2 separate regions of the Homo sapiens genome follow, and region 2 is linked to region 1. A link means that fine-mapping ties the variant in region 1 to the expression of a gene that starts in the linked region. Tissue or cell type: whole blood. Region 1 holds a variant in brackets; the other region holds the start of a gene. All regions are shown on one strand. Distances are from middle to middle.

Evidence for each region. PIP is the estimated chance that this variant, and not a neighbour inherited with it, causes the effect.
Region 2: it holds the start of TIPRL, and the variant in region 1 is fine-mapped to the expression of TIPRL in whole blood (INTERVAL, PIP above 0.99).

The regions. Positions count from the first base shown.
Region 1 is chr1:168,143,778-168,152,225 of GRCh38, reverse strand. No RefSeq gene overlaps it. Among named protein-coding and RNA genes, the nearest start is that of GPR161, 11 kb to the right of the region's middle. The variant A/TA (reference allele first, on the strand shown) is at 4,141.
Region 2 is chr1:168,174,972-168,183,419 of GRCh38, reverse strand. TIPRL (TOR signaling pathway regulator) reads right to left here and starts at 4,458. Exons shown (of 7, transcript NM_152902.5): 1 at 4,239-4,458. The coding sequence starts at 4,342. RefSeq lists enhancers at 4,227-4,346, 4,334-4,835.

The DNA.
Region 1 (8,448 bases):
AAATAAATGGCAGGTTGTTTGAAACCAAGGGTGGTTACTTAAGTTTGGCCATAACTGGGTTTGTTAAGATGTGACTGAGTGTATAAGACTCTTTCCTCCCCAAACACTAATAAAATCTTTGCGGGCTAGCATAGGCTGACTTCAGGGGAAGTTATATTAAAAAAAAAAACAAAAGACAACAATAAAAACCACCGCGTGGTATAATGTGAAGAATACAAGATTTGCAGTCAGTAGATTTGTTAGTTTCCTGATCTGTTGCATCGTGACTGTTCAACTTCAGGTAATTTTTTAAAAAGTTGTTTACGTAACATAAGAGTAAAAGTAACAGTAATGATATTACTTGCATATTACTTGCCTTGGCTTGCTCATACCTGTGAAGTCCTTCTATAAACCATTAATTGCTGTACAAATATCAGTTATTATAATGGTTAAAAGTATTCAAACATGCAGCTCTGTTTTCTGAGTGGGGAACTCAATTATTGCAGATGTGGAAAAGATACACCATTACTAGACCTCTGACACAGAGCTCTAGAAATACCTAGTGATTTCAGCTCTTTGTTGTGCTAAAAATACAAGAGTAACTCTGGGGTCACCTCAGGTGACAGTAGGTAAAGAATGAGGGACCAGGACGTGAACTTCATCCTGGAATCCTCAATCAGCAATCTTGCAAAGATTGTATTAGTCTGTGTATTCCAACATGTATGAGTCTGGTTGTGCTGCACTGGGGATGGAGACAGAAGATATGGATTGTAACATCCAGGAACAGCCACGTTAAGAGTTAATTGCAGTAAATAAGGGGGGTTGTAGGCCTGTAAGTAAGCAGAAGGGGGAATATTTTGATTAAAGACTCATCTTATCCAAGAGAACATCTACTACATATCTTCTGCATTCTAGGCGCTGCTCTAGATAATAGAGGTAAAAGACATTTCTCCCCTTAGGAAGCAGCTCGTGTATTTGGGAAAGGATACATTTATGTATAAAAAGGCATGGGGCCGGGTACAGTGGCTCACGCCTGTAATCTCAGAACTTTGGGAGGCCGAGGTGGGCAGATCACCTGAGGTCAGGAGTTGAGACCAGCCTGGGCAACATGGTGAAACTCCATCTCTACTAAAAATACAAAAAAAATTAATAATAATTAGCCAGGCATGGTGGCCCTCACCTGTAATCCCAGCTACTCAGGAGGCCGAGGCAGGAGAATCTCTTGAACCCAAGAGGCAGAGGTTGCAGTGAGAGAAGATTGTGCCACTGCACTCCAGCCTGGGCGACAGAATGAGACTCCACCTCAAAAAAAGAAAATACATAAATAAATAAAAAATAAAATAAAAAGACAGATACAATCTGCTTATGTGAGCTCCATGAGGGCAAAGACTTTGTCTATTTCCGTCACAGTGCCTGCCACTCAGAAGGTGCTTCAGAAATGTCAGGTGTGTGAACAAGGAATGAGCAAGGCAAATGCTTCAGGAGTTCAAAGAAAGGAACATTGCCTAGTGGTCAGGAAAGGAAGAAAATGGACAGTGCTTGTGTTAGGACTTCAAGGACGAAGTTGGATTCAAATAGCAGAGGTGGTAACAACTATTCCAGGTGCTGAAGCATCATGTGCAGAGGCCAAGAACTAGGACTGCCCAAGGGAATGAGAAGAGGGACCATACCAATGGTCAGCTATAGACAGTCATAGACACTGTTACAGACACACACTCATTAAATCTTCACAGGTCACAGCTTTGTGAGCTGTGTGTTATTACTGCCCATTCAACAGATGAGGAAGCTGAGGCTGAGAGAGTTAAATAGCCCTGTTCCCCCAGTATCACACAGCAATCAAATGAATAAGAAAGAGAATTAAAATGTCACAGGTATTTGCGACCACATAAAATATTCCTATGTATTTCTTACTTCCTCCTCTCCTTCCTTCCTTTCTTCCTAGTGAGACAGGGTCTTACTCCATCACCTAGGCTATAGTGCAGTGGTATGATCACAGCTCACTGCAGCCTTGACCTCTCAGGCTCAAGCCATCCTCCCACCTCCCAGGTGTCTGGGACAACAGACATACACCACTATGCCTGGCTAATTTTTTAATTTTTTGTAGAGACAAGGTCTCCCTATGTGGCCCAGGCTTGTCTTGAACCCCTGGATTCAAGCGATCTTTTCACCTGGGCCTCCCAAAGTGCTGGGATTACAGGCATGAGCTGCACCACCCAGCCTTTTAATGTATTTCCTTTAAATCAGATTAAATTCAAACTCAAATCCCAGACAAATAGAATAAGGATACCTCACACCATCCCTGTCCACCCCTACCCTTAGGATAATGCAAAGGTTCTAGGGATGAATCTAGATTTTCGGGGAGAAAAATGCTCGAGGAGGCCTTTCTGCTCTCGGCCTACATGTTCACCTCTGAGAGGCCCACAACTCCTACCTATGAAGCCCCGCGGCCTGTGCCCAGCCTCCTGGGAGTTTCCATTCCTCCTCTGAGGTCCTGCCCTCTCTCCAGGATTTAGGAGAGGCAGGAGGAAAGTCTCTGCCAGCCATGGTTTTCCCTTCTCATTGTGAAGAACTTTCAGTGTCTCTGATTTTGCCTGTGTCCCACCTCTCCTCTCCTCACCCTCTCCCACCAAACAATACAAATCTCCCTCAAAACTTAGGAGTACAAAACCTTGCTTGCCTTTTGGAAAAAAGGAGAGAAAATACTGAGAGCACAATACAGATGGCTCTTTTTTTTTTCTTTTGGATAATTCCACAGCAGTAAAACCTATATATATATATATATATATATACACACACACACACATATAGATATATAGATGTATATATAGATATATAGATATATAAATATATATACAAATATCTATCTATCTATATATATAAACACCACAATATATTAATCTACCACAAATAGATAACTTTTCTTAGGAGTCTGCTGCATGGCAGGGGCTGTAGCAAGCCCTTTACCGATGAGGTAGGTACAATTACCATCCCTATTTTAGAGCTGGAGAAACCAGAGCTTAGAGGGGTCAAATATCTTACTTAATATCACAAGTAATAGAATCAAAACTCAAGCTCAAGAGCATCTGGCTGGAACATCTGAGTTCTTTTCACTACACCATATAAGGGAAGTAATGCTTCCCCACTAGAGTCCAGAGCAGCAGTTTCTTTTTTCCTTTCTCTTCAGACAAAAATCGAAAGCAAAACACTCTACATAATTACAGATTCCGTATTAAGTAACACATCTAAAAAGAAATTTACTCTTAGTATCATAAAAAATGAAATGAATTTTTACTCGTCTTTGTCACCTTCTAGAACTTTCCATTTGCACACTTAATTTTTACATATTTACCACAATATGAGGTAGAATTTATAGTCCACATTTTAAATTGCTATTATATTATACTATGTCACAGTCTCATTATTTTAATATATTCTATATATTGTATATATTATATGTAAATATATCATATTTACATATTTTTATTTCATACACACATCATTATGTTTCTATAGTCTTGGTACTCTTTTCCTTACAACATCCTTGCCCTCTCTTTGTGCCCACACCTCCCCATAAACAGAAACAATTAGAGTCTAGTGTGTATTTTCCCATACATTTCTTCATGGTCACACAATCATACAATAGCACAAGTATTGAGAAATTGGCCATTATTTGTTTCCTATATTTCTTACAATACATAGTTTGATACACTTATATACTCTTACAAAAGACATGTCTTAAGTTATTGCTGTACTTTCTTAACAATATACATTGTAAAAATCCTTCCAGGTCAATTGATATCACTTCAACTCTTTCTTGTTTAATAATACAATCTACTGTGTGGTTATTCTACAGTTTATTCAATCTTTCCTCTATAGATGGACATTTACGGCTCACTGCAGCCTCGACCTCCCAGGCTCAAGCCATTCTCCCACCTCAGCCTCCCAAGTAGCTGGACCACAGGCATGCACTACCACACCTGGCTAATTTTTGTATTTTTGATAGAAATGAGGTTTCACTATGTTGCCCAGGCTGGTCTCGAACTCCTGATCTCAAGTGACCCACCTGCCTTGGCCTCCCAAAGTGCTGGGATTACAGGTGTGAGCCACCGTGCCAGGTCTCATATATTTTTCTGTACTGGTGCTTTTCTTTCTTTTTTTTTT[A/TA]TTTTTATTATTATTTTTTTGGTTGTTTTTGTTTTTTGAGACGGGGTCTCGCTCTGTAGCCCAGGCTGGAGTGCAGTGGCGCAATCTCGGCTCACTGCAAGCTCCGCCTCCCAGGTTCGCGCCATTCTCCTGCCTCAGCCTCCTGAGGACTACAGGCGCCCGCCACCACGCCCAGCTAATTTTTTTTGTATTTTTAGTAGAGACGAGGTTTCACCGTGTTAGCCAGGATGGTCTCGATCTCCTGACCTCGTGATCCACCCGCCTCGGCCTCCCAAAGTGCTGGGATTACAGGCATGAGCCACCGCGCCCGGCCCTGGTGCTTTTATTTCTATGGGATAGAGTCCCAGGATTAGAATTTCTGGGTCGAAGGGTACATATTTGTTGTAATTTAATAGATATTGCCAATTGTCATGTTCATGCAAATATATACTTTTATTAACGGTGTAGGAGAGTGCAGCGTCCTAGTTCCAAATGCTAATCTGAGGACAATTCACCTCCGGAAACATCCATCTAGAGGTGTTGGAAGAGAACCAGGAATATGGATAGTTTCAAAGCTCTACATGTAGTTGTTTTGTTTGGTATGGTTTTTTTGAGATTGAGTCTCGCTCTGTCGCCCAGGCTAACGTGCAGTGGTTTGATCTCGGCTCACTGCAACCTCTAGCCTCCCAGTTTCAAGCAATTCTCTTGCCTCAGCCTTCTGAGTAGCTAGGATTATAGGCTCCCACCACCACACCCAACTAGTTTTTGTATCTTTAGTAGAGACAGGTTTTCACCATGTTGGCCAGGCTGGTCTCGAACTCCTGACCTCAAGTGATCCACCCGTCGTGGCCTCGCACTCGCAAAGTGCTGGGATTACAGGCGTGAGCCACTGCGCCCGGCCTCTACATGTTTTTTTATTTTTATTTTTTGAGTCTCTCTTGTTGCCCAGGCTGGAGTGCAATGGCACAATCTCGGCTCACTGCAACCTCCGCCTCCCAGGTTCAAGTGATTCTCCTGCCTCAGCCTCCCAAGTAGCTGGGACTACAGGCGCATGCCACCATGCCCCGCTAATTTTGTATTTTTAGTAGGGACGGAGTTTCGCCATATTGTCAGGCTGGTCTTCAACTCCTGAGCTCAGGTGATCCGCCCGCCTCGGCATTCCAAAGTGCTGGGATTACAGGCGAGAGCCACCGCACCCGGCTTCTACGTGTAGTTCTAATAGGTAATAGGGTTTGGGAGTCACAGGTTCACTTCACTGTAGGGTTTATCAACAGGGAGGAATAAAGGGCAGGGATCAGGAGAGCTGTTTGATGTGGATTCCCTTTTCCAAAGAGAGCTTAAATTTAAACTTTTTATCTTATCTCCAAATAACGTTATCAGCAAGACACCCAGACAGGACTGAGGAGAGAAAATATTACTCATTCAACCTTAAATGTACGCCTCATTACCCATCCACCCCACTGATAATAGTTAATTTTTTGTTGTTAGCGCAATTATATGGAAAAGCATTACCATCTGGGATGGAACATTTTAAATTCTGTTAAAACTATACCTTATGTGTGACATACGGCCACCATTCAAACGGAAATTGGAGCAATTTTTTCAGTAATCCTGTATTATTTTTCTGTAAAAATACTATTGTTTATATCAAAATACTTCAATGATTCTAATTTTTCTGCGTAAAGAAATTACTGCATTGTACTGGAGATTATTAAAAGTATTTATTTGCCAGAAGTAAATTTATTTGCTAGAAGTAAATATTGAATGTTTTAGAAGCCTCTATTGGCATTTCTCCTTTTTTCTTCTCTTTTCTGTCCTTTTCTCTCCCCACTTCCCTCTTCTCCTCCCACTTCTTCCTGTCCCTTCCTCTCCCCCAAACCCCCCACCCCCCCACCCTTCCCCGCCCCTCCCCTCCCCACCCCTCCCCGTCCCTCCCCACCCCTCCCCGTCCCTCCCCACCCCTCCCCGTCCTTCCCCACCCCTTCCCACCCCTTCCCACCCCTCACCGAGGCTGTCAGAGTCGGTGGAGGCCCTTTCGCTCTCTGAGAGGCTCTTGTTCACCAACCAGCAGCCAGGTCCACCTGGTCTTGGGACTGGGCTGCTGCAGTTCCACCATTGGCCACTAGGGGCCCTCTGCCTCCCCGGCCTAAGGGGAGAGGAAAAGAATGTCTTTTTACTTTTCTAACGTTCCTAGTAGAAATGAGTCTCATGGGTAGTTTCAAAAGAAAATTCTCAAATAAACCAGGGGAAAATAAAGCGAACTAAAGAAAAGAAGCTCCAAATAACAAACATAGTTTTCGACCTTAAGGTGACTAAAATCTACTCCTGGTTGTCTTGACTGACACAGCTAACTGGGCACAGCCTTCGTTCCTCTCTTTCCTCATTAGAGGAAGCACAAGGCACAGATAAAATTAAATTGACCGTGATACCAGGGTTAGAAGGAGCCTCGCTGCCTCTCAAAACTTAGTTGTTTAGCCAGCATCACCTCTCTTTACATGACCTTGGGGTCATTCTCCCAGCCCCTGCCCCTCCACCCTGGGAAGCTTTTCCTCTGCAACCATCCTGATCTCTGACTCCATCCACTGGTCCAAAGGGAAGATCTCCCAGGCTTCCTGCACCAGCCTGGGGGTGTTTCTTTAGCCCTCTCAGAGGACTCCGTGACCGTCCACACAGGAAGTTTGGTCTCTTCAGCCCCTTCCCTTGGAGTATCTGACCCTTAATCCGCATCTCACTGTGGGGTCACAACCATCAACAAGCCTGGGCACAGTCAGGATCAGAATCCAGGTCTTTGGACTCAACCCATGGACTGATGTTTACACCACAATCCCTCCTTCAAATGCATGACGTGATTTTAAAAAAAAAGGCAATGGCAGTAAGAACAGAAAGGTATGAATTTAATACACTAACAATAATAAAGGATCTTGAGTTCTAAAACTGAACAAATTAAGTGTGTAGAAAAATAAGTACACCTATGCCTTCTCAGGTGGTTCAGTTTTTACAGAAAAAAAAAAAAAGGATTTTCCCCAGCTTGCAGTGTACTCATTTTCAAAAACTCCGTTTTTCATGACAGTATACTTTCCATGTATCCTGGACTTAGATTCCATTGCTGGTCAACGTCAATGGCTAAAAGACAACTCAAAATTAGCACAGTAGCAAACTGACAATAGTGGAGAGAAAGCCTGCTCAGGGTGAAATCATAAGGTGGGCAGGAAAGTGATGGTAACATTTCTCAATCTGTCTCCTATTCCATTGGGTCATTCTCTTAGCTAGTGGTCAACTAAGTCAGGAATTGTTGCTTAAAGTTTAACATAGACATTTTTTGACTTTCTTTTCTGCTCAACATTCATCCACCATTGCAAGATTTATTTAAGAATACTTCCTAGATGGTGCTGAATACTTCCCATTACATTCCGTTCTTGTGTGATACTAAGATTGATCGGTTCTCCATCAACTATTCACTTAATGGTTTTAGTATACATTGATCACCATTGCCTGCAATAGTTATTTCATTAAGGGTTGCAAAATGGTGATTTTAAAATTCTGTTCTTCTTTGTGCATTTATTTGTTGGAATTTTTCTATTAAAAAGAACTTTCCCTAACTACTCTTTGGTCACACTGAATGCAATTCGTATAGGAAAAGTGGAATAAATGTTTGATTCCTTCCTTTTATTTACTAATTTTTCAGAGGAATGAATTGGTTGCCTAGCAATCACCAATGGTGACCAATTTTTTCAACTATAAACTCAAAGATTTTTCTATGTGGATATTATCTTAGTCAGTTTTCTGTTACTATAACTTAATACCTGAGCCTGGGTAACTTATAAAGATAGTGAATTGATTTCTTACAGTTATGGAGGCTGGGACATCCAAGGCCAAGAGGCTGCATCTTGCTGAAGGCATTCTTGCTGGCGGGGGCTCTCTGCAGAGTACTGAGGTGGCACAGGGCATCACATGATGAGGAGGGTGCATGAGAGAGAGCCATTGCAGACCTGGCTTCTTTAACAGACCCATTTTTGTTATAACTAACCCACTCCCATGATAACCTATTAATCTATTAATCCATTAATCCATTAATGAGTTAATCCATTCATGCGGGCAGAGTCCTTATGGCACAATCACCCCTTAAAGGCCTCACCTCTTAATACTGTTACATTAGGAATTAAGTTTCAACATGAGTTTTGGAGGATTCAAACATTCAAGCTTTAGCAGGTATGTTCCAATCCATTGCAACTCTTCTTTTTTTTAGAGATGTGGTCTCACTATATTGCCCAGGCTGCTCTTGAACTCCTGGCCTCAATTCTTCTACTTCAGCCTTCCAAAGTACTGGGA
Region 2 (8,448 bases), 31 kb before region 1:
CATTTCACCCTGGGGCAACAATCAAGCAAAAAAAAAAAAAAATCACAGGAATTTAACATAATTTACACACTTATGACCCAAAGTATCAGTTTTAGAATACCTGTACTAAAGAATAATTCCAAGTACAGAAAAATATTATACACATTAATACTTATAATGGCTTTACTTATAATCATGAAAAAGAAATACTCTGAATGTTTCATTATAAAGCAACAAATGATTATGCAAACCAAAGTATATCCATATGATGAAATATTATGGAACCATTACAAATGTTTAAAGAGAGACTATAATAATATGAAAAAATGCTTATGATAAAATAGTAAGAAAAAAACTGGACACACATTGTATATTTATTACATCTAAACGTGTATTTCTGTGTGCACATATCAGTGATCTAACTTTGAGGTGCAGGTCTTCAGGACTGCACAATGTTAACAATGGTCTTCAGGACTAACAATGTTAACTTTCATCATAATTTTAAGTAAAATTTATTCTTTGTTATTAGGAGATAGAAAATATTAAATACTTAAAAGATTAGATACAATAAACTGTAATTGGAATATATATTCCATAAGATTCCATAAAATAAGTTTTAACTTGAATAATGCATACCAAATGTGAAATAATATGTGAGTCTGTGGATTCTAACCAATATATCTGGAAAAATGTGGCAGTCCTATAAAATATTCCACTCATATATGTAAAAGAATCACTGTTACTAATTTACAGTCCTTCAGTGTTCTAAATATAGAGTTTCTTAAACATAGGCCAAAATGCCCTCTTTTTTTTTTGAGACGGAGTCTCGCTCTGTTGCCCAGGTTGGAGTGCAATGGCACGATCTTGGCTCACTGCAACTTCCGCCTCCCAGATTCAAGCAATCCTCCTGTTTCAGCCTTCCTAGGAGCTGGGATTACAGGCACGTGCCACCATGCCCGGCTAATTTTTGTATTTTTAGTAGAAACAGGGTTTCACCATGTTGGCCAGGCTGGTCTCGAACTCCTGACCTCAGGTGATCCACCTGCCTCGGTCTCCCAAAATGCTGGGATTACAGGCGTGAGTCACCGCGCCCGGCCTGAAAATGCCCTATTTCTAACATCATCAAGCTTCCCACTTAAAAACAGGTATAACTAGTTACAAGGAGAGAAGACAGGAAGCTCCTGTGGTTTTAAGGTGCCTTAAATATTCATTAGAAGAGCTTCTTTAATCCAATATTTTACCCAACCAATTTATTTAGCACCTTAGTGGTTTTTACAATCTATGATAATGCATCACAGAAAAATTTGGGATTGGTGAGGGTAAGTCTTCCTTTTGTCATATAAAAAAAGGCATTTTTTTTTTTTTGGCGGAGGGTGGGGGACGGAGTCTTACTCTGTCATCCAGGCTGGAGCACAGTGGCACGATCTCAGCGTACTGCAACCTCTACCTCCCAAGTTCAAGTGATTCTCGTGCCTCAGCCTTCAGAGTAGCTGGGATTACAGGCCTGCACCACCACCCCCAGATAATTTTTTTTGTATTTCTAGTAGAGGCGGGGTTACACCATGTTGTCCAGGCAGGTCTTGAACTCCTGACCTCAGGTGATCCGCCTGCCTCAGCCTCCCAAAGTGCTGGGATTACAGGAGTGAGTCACCGCACCCGGCCTCAGGCAAATTTGTTTTTAAAATAATACATAAGGAGATCGTAGATATGGAATTTTATTCCCTTAAAACTCTCCATGTATACAGCCATCGCTTAGAGAATCTGTAAGTAAATTACATGGGGGCCCCAGTTTGAAGCTGACTGCTTTATATATAATATAATTATATATTGTATTATGTTGGTGCAAAAGTAATTGCGGTTTTGCAATTAAAAACCGCAATTACTTTTGCACCAATCGGCAATTTGTCACAGAAAGTTATATGGAGAGGAGGCCGGGTGCGGTGGCTTATGCCTGTAATCCCAGCACTTTGGGAGGCCGAGGGCAGGTGGATCATCTGAGGTCAGGAGCTCAAGACCAGCCTGACCAACATGGTGAAACCCCATCTCTACTAAAAATACAAAATTAGCTGGGCGTGGTGATGCATGCCTGTAATCCCAGCTACTTGGGAGGCTGGGCAGGAGAATCGCTTGAACCCAGGAGGTGGAGGTTACAGTGAGCCGAGATGGCGCCATTGCACTCCAGCCTGGGCAACAAGTGAAACTCCATCTCAAAATAAAAATAGAAAGAAAGAATAAGAAAAAAAGAAAAGAAAAGAAAATTAAAAATAAATAAATAAATAAAAATACAAAAATTAGCCAGGCGTGGTGGCACGCGCCTGTAGTCTCAGCTACCAGGGAGTCTAAGGCAGGAGAATCACTTGAACCTGGAAGGCGGAGGCTGCAGTGAGCTGAGACTGTGCCACTGCACTCCAGCCTGGGCGACAGAGTGAGTCTCTGTCTCAAAAAAACAAAATAAAAAATAAATAAAAGTTATACAAGGCTGGGCGCAGTGGCTCATGCCTGTAATCCCGGCACTTTGGGGGGCCAAGGCGGACAGATCACCTGAGGTCAGGAGTTCGAGACCAGCCTGAGCAAAATGCAGAAACTCCGTCTCTACTAAAAATACAAAAAAAAAAAAAAAGTTATAAAAAAAAAAGAAAAGAAAGATATAGAGAGGAAAAACTCAAAAAAGTAATTCAATTTCTGGTGGGATGAAGGGAAATTTTTTTCCTTTCTTTTCTGTATTTTCCTAATTTTTTTCAGTGAGTCTACTAGAATATTACCACTTATTTTCTTGAATTAGGAAGCAAACATCGTTTCATTACTTTCCTCTCTTCCCTGGTCACTCCCTCTGCTCAAATCTTAAAATGCAAGTACTCACTTAGGGTTCTATTTTATGACCTTTTCCTCTGGATGACTTCTAGATACCTTAATTCATTCCCAAAGCTCCAGGTACCAAATATAAGCAGATAATTCCCAAACTTAAACCCACAGACGTTATCTTTTTTGAGCTCCAAGATAAATATATCTAAATGCCTACTACACATCTTCACTTTATGACCTATACCCACCTCACATTTCAATAAACTAAACTCATCCTCTAACCAACACCCTGCCCCCATCTGCTTCTCCTCCTCCTGTGCTTCTCATCTTGTTCAAAGGCATACGATACATGCAAAAATCCAAGCCAGAGATCTTGTCATCAGCATAGACTCTTCCTTTTTTATTTCTCCTCCCATCAGCTGGCCATCCCAGGGACTTAATCTTCTAAAACCTATCTTTTCTCTTACTAACTGGTCTCCTTCCCATCCCTGCGGACCTGCAATCCAGCCTCAACATGGCCTCCAGAGAAATCTTTCAGAGCGTACATCTGATAATGCAGCTCCTTTGGATAAAATTACACCCAGTGGTTGTCAGATAAAATTGAAAACTCCTTAGCCAGGCATAAAAATTCCCTCAGTATCTTGATTCCCCTGGGGCCTACCTCTCATCTCTCACAACACCCCCTATGGTACCTCACGCTCCAATCACACGGACACAGCTCTTTAAACACATCACAGCTTTCACTCTCCCTGAGCCCCCAGCTTTACATGCGTCCCCTGATTCCCCTAAATTTTGTCAAGATTCAGCCCAGGCATCAAAAACGCATCACAACTCACTCTGCCTGACCTGATGGCATGTACCTATCCACCGCCCCCCGCAACGGTTTTATAAAGATTCAGTTCAGGCATCCCAATTTCCCAGATGGTTCGAGCCCCTAAAAGACCTCACATCACTCCGTGTATACATCTTCATTACATTTATTCACGCTGTAATATAATTGTCTGTCTCTCTCACGAGACTGTGAATTGAGGCGCACGTTGTCTTTTACATTTCCTATCTCAAGCGCCGGGCACAGCACCTGACGTGACAGAAACCAAACTTATAAATCATCCCCGTCATTAACCCCTAAGAAAACAGGCAACAGCCACCCAGAAAGAAAGGTGGTGCAGGCTGAGGCAGGAGGAGACGTTTGGTGAGGGGAAAGTCCACCAGAACAGTCACACTCTACTCAAACCCAGGCGGATTGACAGTTGACGAAAGCAGCGCCTGGCGATCCCCAACCAAAGGGCCCGGAAGTGTGACTGGATTATTTATCGAAGTTGTCAATCAAAGGTCCGGTCCGGAGGGACCGAACCTCCGCCTCAGGGAAAAGGGGAGGGGCTGCACAGAGTTCGCCCTGCCTCCCGCCCTGGGCCAGCAACCGGCCAGCGCCCAGACCCCGTGCCCCGAAGCCTCACTTCTCCACATCCGCCGACTTCATGATGTGGGTCTTGGACGCCGTCAGCTTCCAGGGCCCGAAGCAGAAATCCCGGTGGCTGCTCTGGAAGCCGTGGATCATCATGGCTGAGGCAGGACCCGCAGAGGCCACAAGGAATAAGCTGAAGCAGCGGCGGCGGCGAACACCGGTTCCTCCGCCTCCCTCCGGCCCAGCCTCCTAGGCTTCCGAGCCGTTACCATGCCCGGCCCCGCCCCCTGCCGGCCGACCCGGACGCGGGCTCTGCTTCCCGTCTTCTTCTCCGCCTCTTTGCTTTTTGCTTCCGGGACTAGTTGCTCTTGTTGCGTGACCCACGTCTTACGTTCCGGCGTTCCGGAAAAAAGGAAAAAGGAGAAAGTCAGAGGGGCGGCACTTGGGTTGCAGAAGGTGTGGTTAGGAACGCACCGCCCTCTTGAACTCGTTGGGTGACGTCATCTCGAAGGATTTTAGGGACTGCCAGGGAAGGGGATGACGGTTCCAACTTGATCCTTACAGACCTCAAAGCAGTGTGATTACCTCATGTGTTAGTGAATCGTGTTACAGAGGAAATTTTTCTGTTTTGAGGTCAAAAAAAGAAGTAATCCCACAGAGTTTAGGAAATCCAGCACCAACAAGATTTAGAAGTGGCCATCTAGCCACTCTTGACTATGACCAACTCCTATCAAAAATTGCATCCTCGTAGATATGCGAAGACTTTCCATGGTCTAGTTGCTATGTAGGCACCCAGTATAGTGAAAACAACACAGCTGACTTAGTGCTAAATCTCCATTTGCAACACTATTGTGTGAATCCTTGGGCAAAGCGCTTCTCTAACGATTTTAGGCTTCAGTTGCCTCAAAATGAGATGATTTTGTTAATGGAAAAAAAACAAATTCTGTAAAAGGTTTTAAAGAGATTTATTCTGAACCAATATGAGTGACCATGGCCCAGGGAATAGTCCCAAGAGGTCCTAACAAAGAGCATCTGAAGCGGTGGCATTACTCTTTGTTTTATACATTTTAGGGAGTTGGGAATTGCAGGTAAAATAAGTCAATATATGGAAGATATACATTGGTTCAGGCTAAGGAAGTGGGATGTCTTGAAGGAGAGGCTTACAGATCATAGGTGGATTCAAAGATTTTCTGATCGGCAATCTGTTGAAAGATTTAAGCTTTAGTCAGGCGAGGTGGCTCCTGCCTATAATCCCAGCATCTTGGGAGGCCTAGGTGAGAGGATTGCTTGAGTCCAGGAATTTGAGACCAGCGTGGGCACCAGAGTAAGCCCTCATCTCTACAAACCGTGTTAATTAGCTGTGTATGATGGTATCTGCCTGTAGTCCCAGGCCACTTGAGAGGCTGTGGTGGGAGGATCTCTTGAGCCTCAGAGGCTGCATTGAGCCATGATCATGCCACAGCACTCATGCCTGGGTGAGCGAGACCCTGTCTCAAAAACAAATAAAAACACAGGCCAGGTGCAGTGGCTCAAGACTGTAATCCCAGCACTTTGGGAGGCCAAGGTGGGTGGACCACCTGAGGTCGGGAGTTCAAGACCAGCCTGGCCAATATTGTGAAAACCTGTGTCTACTAAAAATACAAAACTTAGCCAAGCACGGTGGTGGATGCCTGTAACCCCAGCTACTAGGGAGGCTGAGGTGGGAGAATCACTTGAACCTGAGAGGCAGAGGTTGCAGTGAGCCGAGATCGTGCCACTGCACTCCAGCCTGGGTGACAGAGTAAGACCTTGTCTCAAAAACAAACAAACAAACAAACAAAAAACAGTGTTAAGCTTTGTCTAAAGACTTGAAGTCAGTAGAAAGGAATGCTTAAGAAAAGGGAGTCTGCTATCTGTCATGTGATTCTACACCAGTCAGGTTGGAAAGTAAGGCACATTATACCATTGCACATAAAAAACCATTTAACGACATTTTATGGTTTGTAGGGCATGACTTAATCCTTGCCTTGCATGGCCATAGTTTTTTTGTTTTGTTTTGTTTTGTTTTGTTTTGAGACAGAGTCTTGCTCTGTCGCCCAGGCTGGAGTGCAGAGGCCCCATCTCGGTTCACTGCAACTTCCACCTCCTAGGTTCAAGCGATTCTCCTGCCTCAGCCTCCCAAGTAGCTGGGATTTCAGGCATGCAACACCATGCCCGGCTAATGTTTGTATTTTTAGTAGAGACGGGGTTTCATCATGTTGGTCAGGCTGGTCTTGAACTCCTGACCTCATGATCCACCTGCCTCGGCCTCCCAAAGTGCTGGGATTACAGGCGTGAGCCACCGCGCCTGGCTCGCAGGTCTTGTTTATTTGTATTTATTTTTTTTTTTGAGACGGAGTCTCGCTCTGTCACCCAGGCTGGAGTGTAGTGACGTGATCTCAGCTCACTGCAACCTCCACCTCCCCAGTTCAAGCGATTCTTCTGCCTCAGCCTCCCAAGTAGCTGGGACTACAGGCACGCGCCATCTCGGCCAGCTAATTTTTGTATTTTTAGTAGAGATGGGGTTTCACCATATTGGCCAAGCTGGTCTCGAGCTCCTGACCTCGTGATCCGCCTGCCTCAGCCTCCCAAAGTGCTGGGATTACAGGCGTGAGCCACTGCGCCCAGCCTAGGTCTTGTTTATAATATGGTATCTTATTGCCACAGAGTGTTTTGTCAGTCTTATGATCTCTAGTTTAACCTTAATGTTGGTCAGTTGTGCCTAAACTTTAAAAGGGAGAAGGTATAGAGGTGTGTCTAACCTCTCTTCCCATCTTGGCCTGGAATTCAGTTTTTAAGGTTTTTCTGAGGTTCCTTTGGCCAAGATTAGGTTTTGTTTTCTATCTAAAATTTCTTTTTATTTAAAAATTTTTTTATTTTTAATTTTTATGGTACATAATAGACATATTTATGGGGTATATGAGATATTTTGATAGAGGCATGCAATGTGTAACAATCACATCAGGGCAAATGGGATATCCATCACCTTAGACATTTATTATATTTTTGTGTTGCAAACATTCCAGTTATAATCTTTTAGTAATTTTTTTTTTTTGAGATGGAGTCTCGCTCTGTTACCCAGGCTGGAGTGCAATGGTGCGATCTCAGCTCACTGCAACCTCTGCCTCCTGGGTTCAAGCGATTCTCCTGCCTCAGCCTCCTGAGTAGCTGGGATTACAGGCACGCACCACCATGGCCGGCTAACTTTTGTATTTTTAGTAGAGACAGGGTTTCACCATGTTGGTCAGGCTGGTATCGAACTCCTGACCTTGTGATCCACCCGCCTCGGCCTCCCAGAGTGCTGGGATTACATGTGTACAATAAGTTATTGTTGCCTGTAGTCACCCTATTGTGCTATCAAATACTAGATTTTATTCATTCTGTCTAACTATATTTTTGTACCCATTAACCATTTCTGCCCCTCTCCACTACCCTTCCTAGCCTCTGGTAACCATCATTTTACTCTCTATCTCCATGAGTTCAATTGTTTTAATTTTTAGCTCCCATAAATGAGAGAGAACATGAAAAGTTTGTTTTTCTGTGCCTGGCTTATTTCACTTAACATAGTGTCCTCCAGTTCCATCCATGTTGTTGCAAATGACAGGATCTCATTCTTTTTTGTGGCCAAATAGTCCTTCATTGCATGTATGTACCACATTTTCTTTCTTTTTTTTTTTTTTTTTTGAGACAGAGTCTAGCTCTGTCGCCCAGGCTGGAGTGGTGCAGTGGCGCAATCTCAGCTCACTGCAACCTCCGCCTCCTGGGTTCAAGCGATTCTCCTGCCTCAGCCTCCCGAGTAGCTGGGATTACAGGTTCATGCCACCATGCCCAGCTAATTTTTGTATTTTTAGTAGAGACGGGGTTTCACCATCTTGGCCAGGCTGGTCTCAAGCTCCTGACCTCGTGATCCACCTGCCTCGGCCTCCCAAAGTACTGGGATTACAGGCGTGAGCCACCACGCCCAGCCTGCACTACATTTTCTTTATCCATTCGTCTGTTAGTGTACACTCCAGTTGCTTCCAAATCTTGGCTATTGTGAATAGTGCTGCAGCAAACACGGGAGTGCAGGTATCTCTTCAATATACTGATTTCCTTTCTTTTGAGTATATTCCTAGCAGTAGGACTGCTGGATCATAGGGTACTTCTATTTTTAGGTTTTTTGGGTTTTGTTTTGTTTTTTTTTTAACAGACAGGGTCTAGCTCTATTGCCCAGGCTGAAGTGCAGAGGCATGGTCATAGCTCTC